4 linked regions of the Homo sapiens genome follow. The protein of the gene in region 2 purifies or fractionates together with the protein of the main gene of each other region. This does not show direct contact. Each region holds a gene or a part of one and is shown on either strand. Other genes may lie near its edges. The genes, in order: ST7, RNF19B, WDR48 and ZMYM4.

Region 1 (7,035 bases), on a different chromosome or scaffold from region 2:
GAGTCTGTGTTAAGTGCTTCGGAAAATGACCAATTATGTTGTATCTAAGTGAATGAAAAGGTTGGTAGCAATGTCATCTCAAAATGCATAAAATATATTCTCCAAGAACAAATGACATTAATGTGCAAAAGACACGCAAAATCTCTGTTAGAGTGCCTTTTCTTGATTTCCTTAGCCTGTAGTTTTGTGAGCACAAAAAAGGTTTGCTATCAGCAGTTGAAATACTGTGGAATAGCACATTAATACACTAATATGACTTTGGAGATTTTGGCCAACCCTCTTAGCAATGAAATATGTTCTTGTAATTTAAGCTGACACTCCTAATTTAGCTCTTGTCCTCTACTGAGTCTACCTAATTATATGTATGGATTGACTTGGTGTTTTCTCTTTTTCTTAAATAGTAATGCAGAAAGCCTGGAGAGAGAGAAACCCCCAAGCTAGGATTTCTGCAGCTCATGAAGCCTTGGAGATAAATGAGTAAGTGGGGGAAAATCTTGCTGTTAAAAAGGAAATCTCATCCTTTGCTGAATATATTCAGTTGCCATTGATAGGATACTTAAATTAAACTGCATTTGAACTGGAGGATTATTTGGGGAGTTATTACTCTATTTAAAAAAGTTTTTTTTTTAAATGAAGGACAGCCACCATGTGGAGGTGGTTTTAGTCATTTTATGAATTCAATGGCTTTGCTGTGATCCTAAATTAATTTCTTGAAGGGCTATCCCTAGGATATTGTGAGGATATAAAATAAATACAATTCTTTACATATCTAAAACATTCTGACAGGGAAAATTTTCCAGATGTAGAATGCTCATCTGCACTAGAACATTTTCTAGTAGAACTTCTGCTAGTGGGGAAAACATGATAACAACATAAGGTTTAAAAAAAAAATTTTAGAAAATACTTCAAGATTAAGACAAAGATAAGAGGAAATGCTGTCTTGAGTGTTGTTAAACATTCTGTGGGTTACCAAGGAAGGCTGGGAAATCTCTTCTGGAGATCTCAGAAAATGAGAAAGATTCTTAAAGTTGGAGTCATAAAAACTCAGGGTTGGCAGAGACCTTAAAGGTCACTTAGCTGAACCACCCATCTGGTGCTTGAATCACCTCAACACTATCCTTGCCAAGTGGTCATTGTTAAACTATTTTATGATTTTTCTGAAGAAGGTTACAGAATCTTCTTCAGAGATCTTAGGGAAAAAAAAAAAAGATTGTCGTGAGAGTTGAAAATCCTGCCATTGTAACCAGTTGATCTACGGTTTCTGATTCTGTCATGCAACATATTTATTTTCCAGTTTCTTGTCATCTACAAATTCGATATGCCTGCCTTCTGTGTGTCATCCATATTTCTGAGAAAAATATGAAGGCCAGGAATAGAGCCCTGTGACATGACATAGAAACTACCCTCCAGGTTCATGTCTTCATGAATCACCATCTTTTGTATTGTTCACTCAATTACTAAGCCACCCAGTTACACTGTGACTCAGCTCATATTTCTCCATTTGGATCTTAAGAATGCCAATCGTAGCTGCGGATCTTAAATTTATAGTAAATCTATTACAGTAAATTAAGCTAGCACAATCTGATTTATTTATTCTTAGTGAATATAAGCTGGCTTCTAGTCGTCACTACTTTCTTTTTAAAGTGCTTGGAGACCATTCCTTTAATAATCCATTAGAATATCTTTCCAAATCACTGTGTTCTGTAGTTTGGGAAGTCTGCCTTCTTCCCCTTTTTGAAAATTTATGCTACATTTATCATCTCATCTTCTAGCACCTCTCCATTCTTTGTGATTCCTCAACTATCCACAGAGAGCAATTCCATGGCCTGCCTACAAGGTCTTTCGGTTTCCTGGGATTTGCCCATCCAGTCCAGTAATTCATTTAGAATGGATCAATTATTTGCTATCTTACATCTTTTTACCCATTTTAGAGTTTAATTTCTTCTCCCTTTTTCAGTCTGACAGTCATTCTCCTTGATAGAGAAGCCAGGAACAAAATAGGAGGGAGAGAGTTTTGCTTTTTCTTTATTATCTACTGCTTTTAACAATAAACCTTCCTTGTTTTGATGTTATTATGTTGTTTGTCTTTTTTTTTTACTTATTTGCCTTTGTGACATGGGGACGGTGATAGGGCCTTAAATATAATTTTAAAATAGGGAATAAATGGTTGTCTTTAGTATTTTATTTTGTTTTATTATTATTATTATTATTGTTATTTTTGCAAGCTTCAGCTAATTTGGAATTGTAGCTCTCCTGACATTATTCTTATAAGCTCATTCCACTCTCTTATAGACCATCATTACATGCCCTCTTTCCATCTTTTAAAATATGTCCTTTAAAAATCTGACCTGGGAGAAATCTCTGTGAAGCCGTGTTGGTTACTTAAGTGCCACCCCTCTTTTCTTCCTGAGAGGATCATTTGTGATTGCAGTTACAGTTGAACATTTGGAAGCTGCTCAACCCTCTTAAACCATTTTTCCTTCTGAATCTCATGCCATTGAATCATGCCTCTTTTCTTTGAATTTTTTGAAGTCCACCTTCCCCTCTTTGATTACCCTGAACTCCGAAATGACATAGTGACTCTCTCTGAATGTTCCTATCAATTTTCATTTTACCAACTATTTTTTTCTTCTTGGTCAGAATTAGGTCCAGAGTTGAAGTTCCCCTAATTGCTTCCTCTACCATCTGGGAGATAAAATTGTTACCAAAGTAAGTCAAGAACCTGTTGGGTGCCCTACTTCTAACCAAATGAGACTTCTAGTGGATATCTGGATGGTTGACACCCCCATCACCACACTTTCTTGCTTCTGTATGTGTATTGTGTTGTGACAAGGATGCATCATCTATATCTTCCATCGAGCTGAGCAGTCTGTTCTGTACTCCCCAACCATTAGCACTTCTATTGCTCTCTCCTTTTTCCTTCACTCACAAGCTCTTAGCATGTTTCTATCCCAAACTCATGCGTTTCCACATAGATGTATGTTTCTTGGCCAGTAGTGCTACTCTGCCTCTCCTCCTAAGAATACCATTTGAAATATAAATAAGCAAAGCAAGCAAGCTAGCCCCAACCATTCTTGGGTTCCCAGCCCAACAACTACAATCTTATAGCTAATTCCTCTGATACTGTATCTACCACTCAGTATTACAATCTCAATTTTCACTTCATTACCCTTGCCTCATATTTATATGTTGGCATCTGAAGCCTTAAGCATTTCTTCTGATGCCTGTCCCAGTTATTTTCTCCAGTGAATCACTTGTATAGTTTCAGCATCATTATGGTTCTTTCCAAGTCATGGATGCTGCCATCTGTAGAAATTGGTTTTATAGCTGTTTTTCTGGGCATTTTTCTCCCTACCTCACCACATTGTTTAAAGCCCCATTGATGGTTCCTGCCTGAAATTAGAGAGACTGGCTAAAGACCTTACAGACCCTTCCTAAGGCTAAGATTAACTAGTAGCCCCAGCCCTTACATTAGCTGTGAAGTTCAGCCTCCTTTTCCTAGCTGGCTATTGCAGTTTGTGGACAGTAAAAGTAACATTTGGTTTTACTTTCTGTTTATTTTCTCTCTTGTGGTCTGATGGAAATAAGTAGGGAAATGGCCACAAGTGAGGCAGTGGGGAAGGAGAGTGAAAGGATGGGTGCAGGACCTGCGTGGTCTGTTACAGCCTCACCACTTCCCTATTACATTCCCTTTCTTTGGCAGTGGGTTGTTCCTCATATGCTTTGGAAGGTTTAAATTCACAAGAACTCCCCATGTTCATTAATTATCCTTTTGGCTTCCCACCTAAGAGGGTTGTTGAAAAGATTATATGAGATGATATATGTTAAGTGCCTGGTACAGTGCTTAATATATACTAAGCAACAAGTGGTAGCTATTGTTGTTGAAGGCATGAGATTTAACTTGTTAGCTACTGTGGCTGAGTCAGATTTTGAGTTCTTCAGAAATAACACTACTTGTAGGTTCTTCCAGTGTTCTCTGAAGCAGAAAGTCAGTGCTAACTGTAAAGAGATGTTGAAGCACTGTGTTTTTTTTCAGTGAGTAACTTGATTTAACGAATTTCTTATTCTGAAGAAATCCTTAGATTGAAGATAATCTGTGTTTAGTTAACAGAAGTAAACCTGTATATAGCACCTCTAACTTTGAGTGTTGGAAGGAACTATTTAATAACAGCTGTTATCATCACCATCACTAGCTGACATTTATTGAGCACTTAACCACATGCTGGCTACTGTACTGAGCACTTTACATGCATCACCTTACTTAACCTTCACAACAACACTGTGAACAAAGATTCCATGTTGTTCTCCATCAGGGAGGCAGAGTAAGAACTTGCCCAAAGTGACACACTAATATAAAGGGTGAAGTCCACATGTGAGCCCCATGCTCTTAACACTACGCATCCTACCTCTCAAGCTAAAATACAGATGTTTCTTTTGTACCATTATTTTGTGTCAGCAACTACAAACAGGAGTGCATGAACCAGTTGGCCACTCTGCATGTTTTGGCGTAACTCCTTGCCTTTCTGCATGAGCTCCTACAGTCTATTACCATGTCCTTGGCTTTGTAATTGATGGTGGCTATTATCTGAATGAACAGGTGTGCAACTGCTTATATTCTCTTGGCTGAAGAGGAAGCAACAACCATTGCTGAAGCAGAAAAATTATTTAAGCAGGCCCTGAAGGCTGGAGATGGCTGTTACCGACGCTCTCAGCAGCTACAACATCATGGATCCCAGTATGAAGCCCAACATAGTAAGGTTTCCTGCAGGTTGATGCATTGGGGGATCAGAATTGTAAAAATTATTAATCAGAGCAAATTTTTAGTCCAGTTCAAAATATGATTCTCCTAGACAAGAGAAAATATTGGCTTTTGCTTTGTTTTTATTAATTTTCTTCTTTCCTATAAGTGCAGTTAGTAAATAATTAACTTACAGCTTCATTGCTGTTTATATTCACATTCTCTTTCCTGCCCATAGATTCCTAACCGCAGAAATAAATGGCAGTAACCTTTAATAGTAACCTTTTTTCCTCCTGAGTTCTTACATATTTCTGTTCATCAGTTGCTTCTGCTCACAACTTTAAAACCCAGATGGGAAACAGGATTTAAATTAGCCATAGTGTTAGCAAAGGTTTTATCTTATAGATCTTCTACAACATGGATTGAAATAGGACAATTAAGAATATAAGTTATTGGTGATTGTATCAGCATTTATCTCTTACATAAGAAACATTGGTATTGGCTTCCAGAGAGAAAGAGCCATGAGCTCCTAGTTATTTATCTTTTTTATATTAAAATAATGCCTTTTTAAACTCCCCAAAAAACGCCTTTTTAAATTTAAGATAACTCTTTAAAATCTGAGACCTTTCACTTCAGTATACTAAACTGAAAGCCAATGACATTTCGTGGGGGAACAGTATAGAAACAAAACAACGAAATCATTTCTGGAATTCCCTGAGCCCCTCGACTCATCAGTTTGTTTGTTGTTGAAGCAGAAATTTAGCAGTCCTTGTGGTAAGAGAGTTAAGTATTTCCATGGTCCAACCAAAATTTGAGAGTATTTCCATGGTCCAACCAAAATTCACAAAGTTATTTTGTTTCTCACTTAGTTTCTCCCTCCTGAAACTTAGAGAGTAGGGATGTATCTCCTTCATATTTGAGATTATAAAATTAAATGTTAACGTTAAACTTGGGTTTGGTGTAGAAACTGACTGCATTAGTCCCCATAACTAAGGTGCCAGCAAAATCTTTGCATTATAGCCTGCATATACATGAGTATGTCCTCACATGTACCACATCAATTCCTAAGTTTTTATTTTTATTCTGCAGCATATATATGCTAATAAAGTCTCTAATCACCATCTATGTCTCACTTTTTAATAAAAAAGTATTTTAGTGTAATGCAGTGCATTTTGAAGACATGTAGTAAATGTGTATTTTGTGAACTAAATGGAAATCAATACATAAAATTACATAACCTATAATACAACATTAATTTTCTTTCTTTTCTTCTCTAAATTAAATCTTTTCAACCTGTTGCCTAAATCCATCCAAAAATATAATCACATTTTTAAAATAATTTGTAGGTACTTGGCAGATTTTCAGCACACATCTTGTTCTCATTGTTTAAGTCTTGAAATGTTAGGACTTTGGTCTTAACATCTTTTAATAGCTGCATATTATACATGTACTTAATCTATAACAGGTGTGTCATATTTTCTCAAACATGGTAATTTTTATCGAGGATTAAGCACATGCATGTTCTCATTGGTCTGAAAACATATCCAACAAGACATATAATTAAATAAAAGATTAAGATTAGAAATTGTTAACGTACTTTTTAAGAGTCATTTTAGTGATTGTTGTTACAACTATTTAGCTTGTCAATTCTTTCTCTAACACTAGGGTAGTTTTTCATTTTGTTGCATACTCTATTGTCATATCTGGAATGTGTTATATTGCCATCTAAAATCAACTGCTTAGGGGACCTGGAGATGATTATGATGTCACTAGTGTTAGGGAAAGAATAATATAAAGCAGAAGTTTAAGATGAGGCTTCTCCAGACTTAATGTCAAGAATGAAAAAAAAATAGTTCATCAGGATGTAACCTGAGATTCACCTCTGCATCTTTACCAAAAGAATGCACGCTTGAAGAATGTGGAATTCCTGCTTGTAAACCGTATACACTGTGGGTATGTTCATTTTCGCAGCACTTTGTGGCAGATGATTTTATTTATTATCAAATATTCAACATCCTCACTCAAAAGCATGGATTAGGTAATTAGTCAGATGATTTGACCTTTGGGAGTCTAAGTGCTTTTACTTTACTTGATCTTCATTCTACTATTAACAAAGTTGTCAGTGCTATGAAAATTTCCTTTAGGGGCAAGGCAAATGGGCCTCTGTATTTTTTTTTTTTTTAAATGTTGGTGTTTTATATCTCCCTCTTCAGGACGAGACACCAATGTCTTGGTGTACATCAAAAGAAGGCTAGCAATGTGTGCCAGAAGACTCGGGAGGACCAGGGAAGCAGTGA
Region 2 (4,896 bases):
CACCATGTTGGCCAGGTGGGTCTCAAACAGCTGGCCTCAAATGATCCACCTGCCTCGGCCTCCCAAAGTGCTGGGATTACAGGCGTGAGCCACCATGCCTGACCACTGAGAATTCTCTTAAGAGCTACCTGGGACTGCCACTCCTTCTCTCCTCTGAAGCATATGACTACTAGTGACTATAATGCAGAAAAGGGCAAAGTTTTAAGAGTAAATTGCACAGTTGCTTCTAGAGGGCAAACAAAGTTAGTTTTAATCTACTGCTTCCCTATTCAGCTGACTCAGCTAATAATTCTTCAGCCTGACTACAAAGTCCAAAACAAGCCTAGCTTTGCTTCCTGTCATGCTAGGAGTCATAGGTTTATAGATGACTACTGCGGTTGGATTTGAATACAATCCTTCTTCCCTTGGATTAGAAAAATTCAGGTCTAGAGACTGTCAAAGATGGTGCTTTGTTTCAAACACTTGGCTCTGTGGGACTATCCAAGCCAAGGAAAATGAGGTAAGTTGAATTATGACAGAAATCTTTATTAAAATGTGTCTTTCAGTAATATGTTTAGCATTCAATATACACACATACATATGTACACTCTTTGACACACCTCATGGATTGCTGCCATCAGTTTAACCAATAAATTAAAACTAAAAAGAGGGAGGGGAGGGGAGGGGAACTAACGGCAAACTTTTCATGTTTTATCTGGTAAGAAATTGTGAATTTCTCAGAATTTCCCTGGGCAAAAACCTGTGACCAGAGAATCTGTGAAATAAAATACATAAATCTCTACCCCTTGGAAAAAAAAAAAAAAAAATTCCAAAAGATGCAGTTACAAGTGTGCTTCTCAGAACAGGAGCATTCATTCCACTTCATACTCTGGCTTCTCCACCTTCTGGCTTCAAGACAGTTTGTCCCTCGGCTAGGGCAGAGAGGTTCATATGGGCACTTGGGCTCGGTGCACCTTGGGCTCTGGGGGTCGAGGGGCAGGCTGCAGTATGGGAGCGGGGGGAGCCACACTCATCTGAGGTGATGTCTGGCACATCGTCTGACTGTGCATCAGAACTCTCTAGGTCACTGCGGATGCTTTCAGGCTGGGCCAGGCTGATGTCCCAAGGTTTGCTGGCCAGGCAGTCTTTCTGTTCACAGCTTTGGTGTCTGCAGGGGGGATCCTCTTCACTGCCTCCGCCACCACTACCTTCTTCTTCATTCTCTGCCATCTGAGCATGAACATGGAGCGAGTCCTCCGTGCTGCTTCCACTCACCAGCTGATAGTGGCTTGGTTTGGCTTCAATGTCCACTTGGATTTCCATATTGTTGCATTCTCTGTGGAGACAAAATCCACTTTGCTGAGTCATGCATGGATCATGCTAAACCTGTTGGTAAAAGCAGTTCATGGGTTCAGGATTAGGAATTTCAAAAAGATAGGTGAACAGTTAACTAGAGCTCACTTTTAACAAAAATAACATTTTAATCTAACACTCAAATGAGATGGAGGCTGGACGTGGTGGCTCATGCCTATAACCCCAGCGCTTTGGGAGGTCGAGGTGTGAGGACTGCCTGAGTCCAGGAGTTTGAGACCAGCCAGGGCAACAAAGTCAGACCCTGTTTCTAAAATAAAAAAAATTAGCTGGGCATGGAGGCACGTGCCTGTAGTCCCAGCTACTCGGGAGGCTGAGATGGGAAGATCACTTGAACCCAGGAGTTCAAGGCTGCAGTGAGTTATGATTGTGTCACTGCACTCCAGCCTGGTTGACAGAGCAAGACCCTGTCTCTAAAAAAACAAAAATAAAAATAAATGAGATGGAGAAGAGTAATTAGATCCTTTTTGCTGATTTAACTATACATGCACACGTGTGCTCAGATGCACACACACGTGTATCTCAGCCAATCTCTTTAAACATACAGAAAGAGCTTCCAAAATTCAACTAAGGGTCAGAGCCCCATGCTAGCTTACTCAAAATAGAAAAGTAAAAGCTTTTTACTACCATGCCACAAGTAGAAGAAGCCAGAATACCTACTAGTGGGAGTACCACAATCACACCATCCCAGATACACCAGTTTCTCAAAATGAAAGAGAAAGAAGCTATGGGAATCCTATCAAGCAAAGGGCAAGCAGAAACCCTAGACTTGAAGACATCAATGAACATCAATCTAGCTCTTTAAGTTCCATGTAATTATACACTGTTGCAATAGCCAAGAAAGACAAAAAAAAAAAAAAAAAAAAGAAAAAATACATAAAAGGAAGAAAGAAAAGAAATCTCTAAAAATCAAGCGCTAACAAGAAGAATCAAGAGATGCCAAACACTCAAGTACCAAGAACTTGCTCAAATGAATTCACAGGTTACACTATATATCCCAGGAGATGGTACATACAGCCCTAACATGAGGCATTGAACTTCTGAAGACCTAGTACCCAACGAAAAAATGCAACCTCTCCTGGACATCTGACTGTTCACATACCTGTCCTGTGGGTTGTAGGAACTGATTATGGAACCGGCCATAGCACGAGTGCTTGCGTTGTCACTAATTGCACCAAGACTGGCTGTGTCTTTGGGGAAAATTTCCTTTTGGACATCGGCTTGAACTTCTAACCTGTGTAAAGAGGGGACGTTCAAGTTAATATGAGACCTGGGTATTCCAAGACAGTCTGCTTCCTGGCACACATCTCTTCCATTACTCTCTTGCAAATTGTGGTTGTCTGTCTGATCTTCTCCAACTGTCAAACAGCGCAAATAGATGCCCATACATTTTTTCTCTTAAATATCTATTGAAATCGTCCCCTCCTTTCTATCCCCACAGCTACTGCTGAACTTCAGGTTTTCATCATCTCCTGCCTGGATGACTAAAACTGGGCTCCCTCTCCAGTAGCCCTTAAGTCCAAGTCAAACAACCTCTAGAACAGTGCCAGTGTGAATAAAGACCCAATCACTCTAACAATTCTCTAACTCTTGGCTCCCTACTGCCAACAGGCATTAAGGTCTTCCTGATCTGCCAGGAAGCTCTCTGTCCAGTTCTATCACTCCCTATAGATCCGAAATCATAGTCACTCTGAATTCTTTCTTTCTTTAAATACCTATACATTTTATACTTCCATGACTTTGCACATGCTATTCTGTCTCTCTAGAAATTTCCTTTCTCTACCAGACAAACTTATACTCAGTCCTTAACAACAAAGGAACTATCACTTCCCCTCATTATCCCAGCAAACCATTCACTTCTTGCTAAGTACTCCCACAGCACCTGCCTACTTATTTATTATTATTTGTTTTTAGAGGGAGTCTCACTCTGTCACCCAGGCTGGAGTGCAGTGGCACGATCTTGGCTCACTGCAACTTCTGCCTCCCAGGTTCAAGCGATTCTCCTGCCTCAGCCTCCCAAGTAGCTGGGATTATGGGTTCCCACCACCACACCCAGCTAATTTTTGTATTTTTAGTAGAGATGGGGTTTTACCATGTTGGCCAGGCTGGTCTTGAACTCTAAACCTCAGGTGATCACCCACCTAAAAAAGGTGCTGGGATTACAGGCGTGCGCAGGCCCTGCCTACTTATTATTATGCATCTCTCACTTGTCTGTTAACTCCACAAAAGGAGAGACCACAACTCATACACACTTTACCTTCCCTGCCTTGCACATAATAGGAAATCAAACATTTAACAATCAAATTACCTCCAGGGAATGAGACTGAAGGACATACAGGAGCCAACCTCTTCCCTCCTCTTGGAGCAGCAAACTTTCCCAATAGTGTCTCAGAGCCCATAACTATTGCCTTTCTTGGCTCCAACATCACTTTGTTGCACAGTTAAGTATTTCCTTATAATGGGTTTCACAGTCAAACCCATCTGACTCATTCACTTCCTATAAAATAAAGGCTTTCACAGAACTAGAACAGCTGGACTGGCTAAGCTGCAGTTTCAGCAAGTCAGTCTCCAATTATGTCTGTCTGCTTATTTACAGGGGTGTTGGTTTTAAGAAAGCACAGCAGTGAATATGCCAGCATGTGGGGGCGGGATCCCCTGATAAGAGACAACCAGAGTCATGAGATGCACAGACGGGTCAGTAGCAGCCTGCAGCTGCACATTCAAGCAGCTTCCATCCTACTGCCTGAGCCTTTGCTTTGCTGCTCCAGCTTCAGGTGCCCTTCAAAAATGTGCCAAGGCCCAGGGAAATGAGGGAATGCAATGGAAAGTGCACAGTGTCAGAGACCTGGCTTCTAGTTTCAGGTCTGCCACAGAATCACTCTGAGTTGGAAGAGTCTTTCAGAAAGGGCTCCTACTTAGGTGGTTGTCAGATGCTGGTTCATGCAACGGCTGTGCTAGAATTACCTGGGGAGCTTTTGCAAAACACGGATCACCCCCTAGGTGCCACTCCAGGAAATTCTAAGCTACTCATTCTGGGATGGGTCCCTGAAGTCTATTTTTAAGAGGCTCCCAAGTGATTGACAGGCACTCAGGTGGGAGATCCAGTCCACCTGCCATCTGTTGCTTGAATCCTTCTTATAGCCAAATAGCCATCTGGTCTCATTGTAAACATTTCCAGGGATAGGCAGCTCAGTATCTACTAAAGTAGCCTTTTTCCTCTTTGGGCTTTCATGTTGCTTTTCCCTATATTCTCTATACTGAACCAAAATTAGTTTCCCTTTAGCTTCTGCCAAGTCATCTTAATCTACCTTTTGGTATGAGGCATAGAAGTCTAATCCTTTTCACAGTTGAAGGTCCTTTGGATAGCTGAAGGCAACCATCTCCTCTACCTTCCTATCCTGCTTTGTTCTACCTTTACCCCTCCCTAGGCCTTTCTTCTCCGTTGCATTCAACTGCTTCTCAGGCAACATGTTATGCTCCTCTGAAAATATACACTCTGGTCTGCCTAACTAGTGAAATGACCAAGCAAGTCACAATCTTTTTAGT
Region 3 (7,035 bases), on a different chromosome or scaffold from region 2:
ACCAGAGCAGCTGATACGTGTGCATAACAGTGAGGCATTGTGTCCTGGATCGTCTGGGAGCCCAGTGTCAAGTCTGCTGGAATGCAGGAAGTAGAACAGAATCGCCACAGGACTGTTCTGGGGCCAGCTTCCCTTAACTCTGTAGCCTGGCAGTCTGACCCAAAGTTGCCCTCACCCAAAGGTTCTGGCTCTTCCCTCCCTCACTTTTACTTTCCCTTCCCCCATAAGTTGGAGGATAAAATGGGTATCAATGCTAATATTTCCAGGGAGAACATGAAACCAGAGGTTTCTTTCTTTCTCTGTAATCTGCTATGAAAGAAAATAACAAATGAAAATAAATGTGTACTACACTTTGAAATATTTTAACTAAAGCCTTTATTCTATACAACTGTGAAATACAGATTTTTACCCTTTTGGCATTGCAGACTGTCGAATTTTCTGGAAACTGTATTACGGTTTGACTGGAGGGGAAAGAAATACAATCATGCTGGGGGTCAGATCTATGACAGGAGGGGAATGCAGCCACCCAAGGCTTAGCACACAGGGCAAAATGACCCAGCAAAACCCATTTCTTTGCTCAAAGGCCCCTCGGGCAAACACAACTGAGGGCTGGTAAATAATTTTTTTTTTCTTTGCCATTAATTCACAACTATTGCTAAAAAATGTGCACCAAAAGCACACTGTTGTATCCAACAGATAGAAAGGACTTTTAAAAAAAAAGAAGCTGGTTGCTCTCTGAGGAAGGGAGAAAGACCATTTCAACTTATTAGAAATGTGGCCACGTCTTTGCTCACTTCTTCAAAGTGCAGGTGGCAATGGCCTGTCCAGTTTCCAAAAGAAGCTGACTAGCAGTGAGGGAACCCTGTCTCTGCAGTTGTGCGATCAGAGTATCTTAAATAGTAAGGTATGGCCTTAGGCCTATCAGCTGCCCCCAGCCGAACCTGTGAAGATGTAGAAAAGAAAAAACGTTCCCTGCCTCCCTCCCTAGTCCCTGCTATGGTGGAGGCAGGCCACACACAAGCTAGGGAGGCAACTGGACTGGAATCAACTGCCCTCTGAAGGCACTTGTGCTTCTGGCTTCATACAGGAGGCTTGTCTTACAGTTTTATGGGGGTGGACCACTGATTTACTCTGAATACAAATGACCTTGGGGAGAATCCAAAGTATTTTCTGCCAAAAGTTGAAGTGTTTATCCCCAATAAGTTACACTCTATACAAGATCCAAATGATTCTATGAAAGTGTTAGATTGTTAGAACAGTGAAAAGAAGATCTGGATACAGGTACAACAAAAACCTGCATATAAAACTTTGGAAAAACAAATATGTATACTTCCAGGATATGAATATCAAATTAACTCACTATGATCTCCCTTTATTCTGACACCATAAATTTTAGGTAACATTTGAATGAAACTGAAATTTCATCATGGTCTTAAATTTTGATGGTGTCATGCTGCTCATCCAGAGCAAGAACCTGTGGTCTCAGCTCGCTTTGTGTAAATAAAACTGGACACAGTGGAGGAAGGAGTGAAACTGCTGCACCTCCCTGGGGTTGCCACAAAGCCAGGACATCATGGGAGGTGCAGCATCGCTAGGCATGGGCTGCACAAACTCCGGCCCAACAGTCCAAGTGCTATGATCCAGCACCTGGAATTTCAACAGATCTTCCTACAAGAACACATCTGAGATGCAATATTAACAACAAGCCCAACATTAATCTTTTATTATGAAATGGGCTGGTTCTCAAATTGTGCAACAGCAAATTCCCATTAAAAATAACTGTCTTAAACGGTGAAAACAATTTGATTACTTTATATGACAAACTTGGAAAAAGCCTTCATATCTACTGCATGAATGGAATGTACTGTTTTAGAAAAGCTACAGAGTGTGTGGGCTTAAAGTTGAAACAGAGACAGTTGTGGCCCGACTGAGGTGTCTCTAACAAGTGTTAATGGGTAGATAAGGTCCTTTGAAACAAAAGGAGGAAGCAAAGTCTGCACTGGCCTGTTGTCAGTCTTCTGTACATCTTGAAAGACATAGTCTGCTTGGGGCTCTTCTGCTCTTGCACTCTGCTTCCCTGGGGACAGCTTAATCTACACATGGAGACTGGTTTCTATATTACATCTCGATTAGTCACTTCAATTGAAAGATAATCTCGGTCCATACCAATCAGCCGTTAGAAGTCTTGCTCCCGTTGGGGATCAGTGGGCTTCCTAGGACTACTCTTGGGGCCATAGAGGAAGGTCGTAAATGAATATCCAGGAGCATTAGCCCAGCCTTCACGTGGACTTCTGACGGTAATGGAGGGTGAGGTCTCCACCGCTCTTCCATATGAAGTGTTTCACTGTTCGAAGGTCCATATTTGGATCCAAAACCTGAATAGCCAAAATTAAATTTAAAAATTTCAAAGTCTCTAATATCTAAAACCTTATCATTAACTCAGGGACTCTCATCAGGTGATCCAGCTTGCTCACTCCTCCCCTATGCCTGGTATCCAATTCTTGCTGTCACGGCTTCCATGCATGCGGGAATGAAATTGAGCTTAGTGAGATGTACATCTTTTGTGACTATGCCAGAAACACCAGGCCATCTTTCAGCCATTCCTCTGAGGATACGTTTTGAGTGCATCTTGATTTAAAAAACAGTTCTGCCATTTCTCCGCACACCTTCACTCTAAATCATAAACATGGCACATGCTTTTTGCAAATCAAGAAGACCATGTGTCTTTTTTCTTGTCAGAAAAAAAAGCTACCAGCACATCCACATTTGTCTATGTATCCCTTCTCTGAAAATCTCCCCAGCAGTAAAGAGGAGCTTTAGGGTGGGCTTTAGGTAGGAGAGGCCCAGGGCTCCTTAGAGCCCCTCTAAAAGTAGAAGCCCCCCACCCAAAGGCATGTAACTCTTTATGAGCACCAGCACTGGAAAAATTGGGGCTGTAGTCCTCAAGTCCACTTACCTGGTCCTGGCACAAAAGTTCAATTTTCTCCTCTGCCAACACAGCAATATCTTCTTCTTTTTCCTGTTCTCCTGGTTTTTCATTATTAGAAGAGCTAGTGGTTTGAGACTCATTATCCAAGTTGATAATTTTTTCATAAACATGTTCCATAACTTTTCGGACTTGGAGCATGTCACTAGCAGAGAGTCTATCTCTGTAAAAAAGCAATGGCATATTGTGACATCAGGGAAATCACTAGATATTATTTATTCCATATTATTTTTCTTTGATGCAAACATTTTAAAGATGAAAAATAAACCAATAAATGTTTTTAGTCATTACCTTAATCCATTTTTAGAGCTGCGGAAAGATTTTCTACAGTGTCCTTCTAAGACACAGTTTATGTACAACTAAATGAGATTAATATGTGTTCTTAAAACTTGACATATACAGGCCAGGTGTGGTGGCTCACGCCTATAATCTCAGCACTTTGGGAGGCCAAGGCAGGTGGATCACTTCAGATCAGGAGTTCAAGACCAGCCTGGCTAACCAACATGGTGAAATCCCGTCTCTACTAAAATACAAAAAATTAGCTGGGCATGGTGGTGCACGCCTGTAATTCCAGCTACTCAGGATGCAGAGGCTGCAGTGAGCCAAGATACGCCACTGCACTCTAGCCTGGGCGACAGAGTGAGACTCCATCTCAGAAAAACAAACAAAAACATTTACATATACATACATAGTAGCCTTCTGGGTTTTATTCCCTTGAATACTTTCCCAGAACCTGGGCAAACTAAATAATTCTGGAAAGGCAGGCAGCTCCCAGTGCTTACCAGGGTCCGACACTCTTAGTGCTCAATTTTCCCTGGGCTCTCCTCCCCACTGCCATGCCTTCAGCTAGCACCTGTGAGCAGACAATGCCTGAGTCTAGACCTTGAGTCTCAACCTTCTCTTCTAAACCACAAACCCAACAGCTGGTTGGGTATCTTCAGTTGGATGTCCTACAGGCACCTCAAACTCTGTATGTCCCAAACTAGACTCATCAACACCCTACTTCTGTATCTCTGATAACAGTCAATAACTATTATACCAAAAAACTAAGGCCTACGCTCTGAAAATCATTTGAACTTCAGTTGTTAAATCTATCTGAACTGATGTCTAGGACTCACTTTAAAATAATTGTGTGTGTGTGTGTGTGTGTGTGTGTGTGTAGACAGAGATGGGTGGGAGGGCAGGTAGAGGTATAGGTGAAGCAAAATGTTTAGCAAGGTATTGATAATTACTGAAGCTATCTGATGGGACGATGGGGGCTCACTAGCTTCTTTCTATATAAGTTTGGAAATCTCTGTAATAAAAAGGTTTAAAAATTTTTTTTATTTTATTTGCTAGAATACATATTGTTCATAGTTTAGCATCCCATTACTACACTACTAAAATTCTTCTCTTGGGTCTCCCTGGACCATATCCCACATTGGCTCAAAAGTTTCTGGTGTTTAGTCACTGCACGCTCTATGGCTTGGCATTCAAATCCAACATCAACAAAACCTTTAACTGCTTTTCCAATTTACCTCCTAATATCCCCCTGCTGCCCCTCCATCCCATGCTGCAGGTGCATGGGTCCTCACGTTACTTTCCACTATCTTATGCATGCTCCCACTTCCACATCCCTGATCACACTGTGTCCTGGACTTGGAATATCTATCTTTTGAAGTTCTACCAATCATTACATGTCCAACTCAAATTCCACGTCCTTCAAGAAGCCTTACTGGGAAGCTCCAGCCAAAAGCTCATTTATTTCTCTCACTCTCATTATTCCTTAAGTATCCATAAAAACAACTATTATATACAGGTTGGGTCCTAAACTGTGAATTAAGGCAACAGACAAAATGTGTGTTTTATTTATCATTTTTTTCTTAGAGACAGGGTCTCTCTCTGTTGCCCAAGCTGGAGTGCAGTAGCATGATCTTTGCTCACTGCAGCCTCAAACTTCTGATGATCCTCCTGCCTTAGCCTCCTGGCTAGCTTGGACTACAAGCGTGTGCTCCCATGCCCAGCTAATTTTTTTACTTAAATCTTTTGTAGAGACAGGAGTCTCACTACGTTGCTCAGGCTGGTCTCAAACTCCTGGCCTCAATTAATCCTCCCACCTCACCCTCCCAAAGTGTTGGGATTATGGGCGTGAGCCACTGTACCTGGCCTTATTTATTTTTGAACACCTGTAATCGGCCAAAGTTGGTACCTGGTAAGTGGTTTAATTGTATAAACTTTGAATATTATAAAATCAGCCTTAGATCTGGTATTTGCTTCCTTTGCTATAAAAGCAATCATAAGGAAAAGGAATTCTCTCTAGTAGTTAATTAGATCAAGAAACCATATATTTACTTACTTTTTTAAGGTTTTTGCTCCTGAAGATGCATGAGGTTGGAGGTAGAAAGGAATTTTGTTGAATTTGGGCATATTTTTCTGAAACAGTAAAAGTTAAAAAGGTATAACAGTTTCTATTAGTTGATAAATGAAAATAATGTTAATAGGAAAACATGACTTGCAAGTAATAATTATCTTACAATTAAAAGTGACTTTCTATGAAATGTATAGTAAGCTATCAAATTACCTAAGTCAGCCTTCGAGAAAATTCATCAGAAAAATATATGTAACATTAGAGGTAATATGAAATTGTAGCATGGCTCTTCTTAGATAACAGTACAAGGTATTAAAGGGAAACAAACTTTAATTTTTTAAGCCATACAAACCAGAATCTCAATTCTACATTAAAATATTGGAGTTGATACCTAAAGGCCCAAACAAAAACTTAAGTGTCTTGAGAGAAACCCACAGCATTCACCTTTGAGCAAAGCCACACATTCTGTGCTGGTGAGGCCCATCATCCAACTGAAAAGGCCAATCAAAGTCCTCCCATTTTCTTTCCCTCTGACATCACAGTGAGGTCTGAGGTGTTAAGAAAGAGTGGAAACTTCAGCCAAGAACCCAGATGTCTACCATGAAGTAAACCACATTCTTAGATGAAGGATAAAATTACGTGGTCATCTTTTCTCAGGGTATTAATCCCCTCCAAGCCTTCATGTCACATCCTGTCTGGATGTCTCCTCTCAAGAATAAGCCACAGGGCTAAAGTCAGCAATGCGTCCCAGGTGAGTTTCACACTCAAAGAAATTAGTGGCTTATGGGGTGCTCAGGCATAGAGAAGACCATGGAATATCCATCAGGTGTCACATTGGCTTTAAGTCTTAGAGGTATATCCGGGACAGAAAATAAAGTTTCTGAAGGTTCTAAAGATTAAATTCCTTTTCATATGGCTTTAGAAAGATACAAAATAGACCAACAGTACATAAGAGAGTCTAGAAGCAGACCCATGTGTATACAGAAATTTAGTACATGATAAACATAGCATCCCAGATAAGTAGAAAAAGGACAGATTTTCAATAAATTGTGCTAGCACACTAGCTGTCCCTTTGGAAAAAGTCTAAATCCTACTTCACACCAAACAGAAGACTAAATTCTAATAGATTAGAGAGCTAGACATAATTATCATAAAAGAACTAGAAGAGAATATAGGAGAATATTTTTGTTACTTTGGAGTAGGAAATACCTAAACAAGACATGAAACTAAGAGCCATCAAGGATCAATTTGATTATATAAAAAGTAAAACTTTTCACCTGGCAAAAGGAACAAAGTGAAAATTTAATTGAGACACAGATAATAGTTAAAGGGTTAATATTCAATATAAACCACCACCCCACAAATCAGTAAGAAAAATGACCCAATAGAAAAATGGGTAAAGAATACAAACAGGTAATTCACAGAAGAAAAACAAATGGCCAATATGAAAAGATGCTTAACCTCACTATTAATTTGTTTTTAATCCACATAAAAATAATGAGATACTATTTGCCTATTTTTTAGCAAAGATTAGAAGTATCCAGTGTTGGTGCAGGTGTGGGGAAATGGGCACTCATACACTGTTGGTGAGAATGTAGACTACTACAGCCTTTGTGGAGGGCAATTTGGCAGTATCTATCAAAATTTAAAATGTGCATAACCTTGGATCCAGCAATTCCACTTCTAGGAATTTATCCTAAAA
Region 4 (7,035 bases), 2.3 Mb from region 2:
TGGCCCAAAAGTTAATTTTATTTTTAACAACCTATAACATACGCAGGACTTGTATAGGTTTCCCCCATTATTTTGCCAGTTTCATCACAGAGGAAAATTACATTCATTGATTTTTGGAATTAATGGTGTGGTGGCACATGCTTCTAGTCCTCGCTATTCAGAGGTTGAGGTGGGAGCATTGCTTGAGCCCAGGAGTTGGAGGTTGCAGTGAGCTATGATATTGCCACTGCTCTCCAGCCTGGGTGACAGAGGGAAACCCCCTCTCTAGAAAAAGTAAAAATAATACATAAATAATATTTTTTGATCCATAATTCATTTTGTTTTTGATATTTCATTAGAATGTTCGGTATGATTGTCTTAAATGATATAAGTACTTTTTTCCACTTTTTTTTGGTGTGTGCCAAATTACATGTGGATTCCATATGTATACTCCAAGCCGATTAATGGGGACTATGCAGTACCATGTCTTTGGAAATTGACTGCCTTGAGGGAGTTGAAACAAACTATCCACATAGACTTAGATAGTAACTTTAGGCTATTCAATCTGAAATTGCATTGATGACATGGTATTGTACTTAATGATGCTTACTGCTTTTGACCTTTGTAATCATGTCACAAAAAAGTTGCTAAGCACCTGTGCTATTTCATAAGCTACATGCTAGGCATTGTGCTTTGTTACTTAGGGTCATTTAGGATAATATATGCTGGCTCTCTTGATAAATTGTGAACTCCTTTAACATAGTATCTATTTCATTGCTTTTTGCGTCTGGACATCTTGTGACCTCTACACAGTAGGAACTCAAAAGACTTGCTGACTTATTTTTGTAAGAATAGCTTACCTAGTACAGCAGAGGCTCTATGGGTTGAGTACCAAGTTCTCTGCTTTGTAATTTTGAGGGGCTCTGTAAATCTTTCATAGCGTCCTTTACTCCCCAGAGTTCTCTCCTATGGATCCAGATTTAGGGATCTTCTGATTGTTCTGGATTATGGTTAGATGGGCAGGTGACTGCATTTTTTGTTGTTGTTTTTGAGATGGAGTCTTGCTCTGTCGCCCATGCTGGAGTGCAGTGGCGCTATCTCAGCTCACTGCAAGCTCCGCCTCCCGGGTTCACGCCATTCCTTCGCCTCAGCCTCCCGAGTAGCTGGGACTACAGGCTCCCACCACCATGCCCGGCTAATTTTTTGTTTCTGTATTTTTAGTAGAGACGGGGTTTCACCATGTTAGCCAGGATGGTCTCGATCTCCTGACCTCGTGATCCACCCGCCTCGGCCTCCCAAAGTGCTAGGATTACAGGCGTGAGCCACCACGCCCAGCCGGTGACTGCATTTTAAGACCATTGGGTTAACAACCTTAAATTCTAGGTAGGCCTGCCTGATGTCTTGTTTTTATATTTGTGGGCAGTCGGAACACTTGTATTCAGAATATGCTGGAATGCTAGTCTCTCAATTTGTGAACACGGGGGAGCTGAGTATGTGGGTGGATCAGCGCTATATTCATCTATCATCTCTAGTATAGAGAGAATTAAGTTCATATCCTAGTGCCTATACATGAAGGCGTTACAGCAAGCATCACACCCACACAAATACATACACACACACACACTTTAAAGTTGGCATATTATTTAATTTTTTTAGATGATAAAATTTTTGTTTTCTCAAATAGCTTTTAAGACTCATTAGGTAGGCTTATTATAAATGATTGAATTATTTATGCATGGCTATTATAATAACCAGTATGTTATGAAGTATGAGGTCTAACTAAATCGGGCGGCCATATTTTGTTGTAAAATCCTTGTCTTTTCAAAGTTTACATACAAAATAATAACTTTTGTAAATGTAAATATTACCCGGTCTAGTAAATTGTATTCATTTTCATACTTAAAATTCTGTGTGTATTAAATTTGAGATGTATATACCTGGTATGCTTAAAAAAGAGAGAAAGCATATGTATAAGTAGTATGCTTCCATTTTTTGTGAAAAACAAAACAAAACGACCTTTCTTGCCTCCCCACATTTGTGTCTGTATATGCTTGTACATGTATGAACTTAGAGAAAATTGTGGAGGACACAGTTTGGGATATTACCACTGATTACCTTCAGTGGGTAGGGAGGAGAAACGAAAGAGAGTATAAGGGTGCAAATTTCACAAAGTGGAAAAAGTATTCATGGTATAATGCTAAGTGAAAATGTAGACTATAAAATGTTATCTATTAATATATAAATCTGTGAAAATTGAACACACATATAGACAGTAGAAAATACGAACAAATGAAAGCATTGACTTCATGATGTGATGGGATATGGAGAAGTTTTATTTTGAATTTCTGTTATTTTAATATTTTATAATAAAATAATTGCAAAAGATTGATCCCTCTTAATTCCTTAATTAACTTTTTCTCTTTTCTGTCTTTTTGCTAAATGTATTACTTAAAAACATGGCGGTACATATCATTACAATATTTGCGGTTTATATGTATGCAATGTGAATAATTTGCTTTTAGAAAGTATTGACTCTTTGTTTAGAGACCATTTGAAGAGGCCATTCAAATACAGTGATTCTGCATTGTTTTCACACTGCTTCCCATCTTGTAACACACAGAGGGATCTGTAAATAATAATACTTGTGGCTGGGTACAGTGGTTCATGCTTGTAATCCTAGCACTTTGGGAGGCCGAGGCAGGAGGATGGCATGAGGCCAGGAGTTTGAGACCATCCTGGACAACATAGCAAGACCCCATCTCTACAATAAATTAAAAAAATTACCCGAGGTTTAGTAGCCTCGTCTACTCATGAGGCTGAGGTGGGAGGATTGCTTGGAGGATTGCTTGAGCCTAGGATTTCGAGATTGCATTGAACTATGATTGTGCCACTGCACTTTAGCCTGGGTGACAGAGCAAGAGAGACACTGTTTTTTTTTTTAAAAAAAAAAAAAAAAAAGGAGAGGCCATTCTAATACTGAGAATGATTCTGAGTTGTTTTCACACGCTGGTTCTTCCCATCTTGTAATAAGCAGAGACATCTATAAATAATGATAATACTTGGTATTATAAACCCTTAAGTGCCAGTCATTTTTCTAAGTATTTTACATGTGATGTATTTTTCAACCACAATTATTGTCCCATTTTATAAATTAGGAAATTAAGGCACAGAGAGATTTGCTGGAGATATGATGGCTAAATCAGGATCAATTATTACTTGAACTGGTCCTGTTCGATCATATAGGTTAGAACTTTTGTTTATCCAGAAATATTATGGTTAGTGTTTATATTCTCATTTGTAAAATAAAGCACATAATTCTTTATCTGGAATGTATGGATGTTAGAATAATTTGAATTACATTCAAACAAAGTTGATGTAAGTTACTTCTTAGGAATCATTAAGTTAACTTGTTCCCTAAGAAATACATTTTTGTTTGAGATCATCTTAAAATATGTATTCACAGCTCACATTTATTTTTTAGAAAATATACACTAAATATTTTGAAGCTGTGATTTACTTTAAAGATTATGTTTGTACTTTTTTTGACAATGGAAAGATTTTCTTTTTTCTTTTCTTTTTTTTTGAGACAGAGTCTTGCTCTGTCGCCTAGGCTGGAGTACAGTGGTGCCATCTCAGCTCACTACAACCTCCACCTCCTGGGTTCAAGCAATTCTCCTGCCTCAGTCCCCCGAGTAGCTAGGATTACAGGCGTGCACCACAATGCCCAGCTAATTTTTAGACAGGGTTTCACCATGTTGGCCAGGCTGGTCTTGAACTCCTGACCTCATGATCTGCCCGCCTCAGCCTCCCAAAGTGCTGGGATTACAGGCGTGAGCCACTGTGCCTTGCCAGAAAGGTTTTCTTACTAAAGAATATGTAAGTAGATAAATATAAAATTTCAGTTTCTATGGATACTTAAGAGGTATTTTTGAATTCTGTATTAGGAGAACAGCCACTATTTAAAGAAAAGTGATATTTCCCTTAAAAATTCTGATTATTTTACTATGAGCTAACTGTATGTACTTACTTTAGCAAAGGAGAAAGGCAAGTATTGTATAAATGTACTGTATTCAACCCAACAAAATTGCTAATACTTGACCATTTGACTTAAAAAAAAATGACACTTTTATGTGGCTTAGCCATTAGCAGGAGCATGGGTTTTTCAAAGTCAGTTTATGGTATAATCTCTGGAATTTAGCAATTTTGGGGTAGTAATAGTTCTTATCCAACCTTCTCATACCTATACCCACTTTCTTGTACTTAGGAAATATTTATATTGTTATTTTAATTTCATTCATATCATCTTTCTGGCCTCCTAGAAGCTTTAATTAGCTGCCTTTGACCAAAGATAGTCCTTTTTTTTGTTTTGTTTTGGTCTATCCAGCGTATAGAACCCAGCACTGTCAGTTCTTTGAGAACCCAGCACATATCAAGAATCATATGTGTTTTTCTTTCTTTACACTTCCCAATATGTCTTACAAATGTATTTTAATACTGACATGCATATTATACATTTATAAGCCAAAAATTAATCTACTATTCCTGTCTCATCTAACTACTCATTTCTGTCCCTCCCTCCCTCCCTCCTTCCCTCCCTCCCTCCCTTCTTTCTTCCCTCCTTTCCTTTCCTTCCTCCTTCCTTCCTTTTTTTCCATAGTTGAAATAATTTCAAAGAAATAACACACATCACATCATTTAATCTATAAATACTTCCGTGTGTATTTCTAACAGATAAGAATTTTTAACAAGCACAACCACAATACTGTTACGACCTAACAAAAGAGTTCCTTAATCCAGTCTGTGTTCAGACTTCTCTTATTCTTTAAGTGTCTTTTTACACTGATTTGTTTAAATCATCCAACTAAGAGTTACACATTTCATTTAGTTTATATGTTTCTTAAGTTTTTCTTAACCTTAATCACCTCCCCCCACCTTTTTTTTTCTTTTTGAAATGGAGTTTTGCCCTTGTTGCCCAGGCTGGAGTGCAGTGGCGTGATCTTGGCTCACTGCATCGTCCGTCTCCTGGGTTCAAGCGATTTTCCTGCTTCAGCCTCCCGAGTAGCTGGGATTATAGGCATGCACCACCAGCCTTGGCTTATTTTGTGTTTTTAGTAGCGACAGGGTTTTGCCATGTTGGCCAAGCTGGTCTCAAGCTCCTGATTTCAAGTGATCCACCCGCCTCCGCCTCCCAAAGTGCTGGGATTATAGGCATGAGCCACTGCACCCAGCCAATAATCCCCTTTCTTAACTCATACCCCCTGTGCTCCTTTCCCATGCTATTTATTTGTTGAAAAAAATAGGTTATTGTTCCAGGATAATTTTCCACATTTTGGATTTGGCTGATTGAATCCTTGTTATGGTATTTAACATGTTCCTTTACCCCTCATATTTCCCACAAATTAGTAGTTAAATACAGAGCAGTGGTTCTGAACTTTGGCTAAAACTTTAGAATTATCTGGAGAGCTTTTAGTTATCCTGATCCCTAGGCCACATCTCCGATAAATTAATCAGAGCCCATGAGGTAAAATGTCATCATCAATATTTTAAAAAATTTACCAAGTGATTTCAGTCTGTAGCCAAGATTGAGAGCCCTAGTTGGTAGAGCTTGATGAGTTTAGGTTCAGTTTCTTTGGCAAGAAATATTTATAAAGAGTGGTTATATAATTTATTTGCAATCAGACAATTTTGAGAATGAAAGGGGGTGCTATAATGATTACACAGAAGGAATAGTTTAAACTGGAATTGTTCTAGACAAATTAGGATTTATAGTCATTCCATTAGATGGGGCTGTGAATTCTTGTTGGATCGTTCTAGGAGGTAACTTAAGTGGTGGTTCTACTTTTAGTGATACTAAATGGATCATTTGGTTTAGGTTCTGTCAGTGGGATCCAAATGTAATTTATTTTTAACTTTTCACTTAATGATAATTCTTGCCTATATCCATTATTTCATTAGAAGAGTGATTTTTTTTGGTCATTTCTTTTGTATTTATTAACTGGAATTCTTTCATAAAGAATTCCCTCATCAATTATTTGGTTACCTTGTAATACGGTTTGTAAAGAAAAAGCAGGATAAATGCTTATTTTTTTCCCCTTTATCAGTAATTTTCAGAAAAATGAATTGATGCCCGCCCTCACAACTCCCAAAGGTGAGGTTTGGGAGGGAGTATCATTAGGAACTCATGAGTTTTACCATATGTGATACATTCTAATTTATCATAGTCATTATTTTTGGTGTTCAATTTGTTGTATCTTTGATGATTGGCGGTCTCTTAAATTAGTTTCCTAAGGCTGCCAAAAAACTGCTACATACTTGGTAGCTTAAAACATCAGAAATTATCTCACAGTTTTGGAGGCTAGAAGTCCAAAATCAAGGCTCTAGGGAAGAATCTTTGCTTGTCTCTTCTATCTTCTTGTGGCTTGGTTGGTATTCCTTGACTTGTGGCGGCAAAACTCCTGTCTTTGCCTTCATCTTCCCTTGGTCTTCTTTCTGCATCTTCTTTTCTGTCTCTTAGGGTCTACCTTATTCCTGGATGTTCTCAGCTCAAGATCCTTACCATAATTACCTCTCCAAAGATCTAGTCTGCTCACATACTGTGGTTCTGGGTGGACATAACTTTTGGGAGCCACAGTTTAATACACTACAGTTCTTTTTTTGACCCCTAAAACTTCATTTACATCCCATATGCAAAATAAATTCACCTCATCCCAACATCCTCAAAAGTCTCGACCTATTACAGCATGAACTCTGTTTTTTTTTTTTTTTTTTAGATGGAATTTCACTCTCTCGCCCAGGCTGGAGTGTAGTGGCAGAATCTTGGCTCACTGCAACCTCTGCCTCCTGGGTTCAAGCCATTTTCCTGCCTCAGTCTCCCAAGTAGCTGGGACTACAGGAGCGTGCCGCCATGCCTGGCTAATTTTTTGTATTTTTAGTGGAGACGGGGTTTCACTATGTTAGGATGGGCTCCATCTCCTGACCTCGTGATCTGCCCGCCTCGGCCTCCCAAAGTGCTGGGATTACAGGCATGAGCCACCATGCCCAGCTACAGCATGAACT

Evidence for each region.
Region 1: the proteins of RNF19B (region 2) and ST7 purify together in Homo sapiens (affinity purification with mass spectrometry; 2 studies listed by BioGRID and IntAct, with this or other methods). This does not show direct contact.
Region 3: the proteins of RNF19B (region 2) and WDR48 purify together in Homo sapiens (affinity purification with mass spectrometry; 2 studies listed by BioGRID and IntAct, with this or other methods). This does not show direct contact.
Region 4: the proteins of RNF19B (region 2) and ZMYM4 purify together in Homo sapiens (affinity purification with mass spectrometry; 2 studies listed by BioGRID and IntAct, with this or other methods). This does not show direct contact.

What each region holds. Positions count from the first base shown.
Region 1 is NC_000007.14:117,131,484-117,138,518, forward strand, and holds part of ST7 (suppressor of tumorigenicity 7 protein), read left to right. Parts: intron 1-401; coding exon 402-477; intron 478-2,640; coding exon 2,641-2,709; intron 2,710-4,597; coding exon 4,598-4,752; intron 4,753-6,951; coding exon 6,952-7,035. UniProt on the Homo sapiens protein: May act as a tumor suppressor.
Region 2 is NC_000001.11:32,935,945-32,940,840, forward strand, and holds the end of RNF19B (E3 ubiquitin-protein ligase RNF19B), read right to left. Parts: intron 2,585-4,896; coding exon 2,453-2,584; intron 1,366-2,452; coding exon of another isoform or gene 1,344-1,365; exon of another isoform or gene 1,316-1,343; coding exon 862-1,315; 3' UTR 505-861; downstream 1-504.
Region 3 is NC_000003.12:39,089,988-39,097,022, reverse strand, and holds the end of WDR48 (WD repeat-containing protein 48), read right to left. Parts: intron 5,399-7,035; coding exon 5,322-5,398; intron 3,150-5,321; coding exon 2,957-3,149; coding exon of another isoform or gene 2,771-2,956; exon of another isoform or gene 2,376-2,770; coding exon 2,280-2,375; 3' UTR 359-2,279; downstream 1-358. UniProt on the Homo sapiens protein: Regulator of deubiquitinating complexes, which acts as a strong activator of USP1, USP12 and USP46. Enhances the USP1-mediated deubiquitination of FANCD2; USP1 being almost inactive by itself.
Region 4 is NC_000001.11:35,271,698-35,278,732, forward strand, and holds part of ZMYM4 (zinc finger MYM-type protein 4), read left to right. Parts: intron 1-7,035. UniProt on the Homo sapiens protein: Plays a role in the regulation of cell morphology and cytoskeletal organization.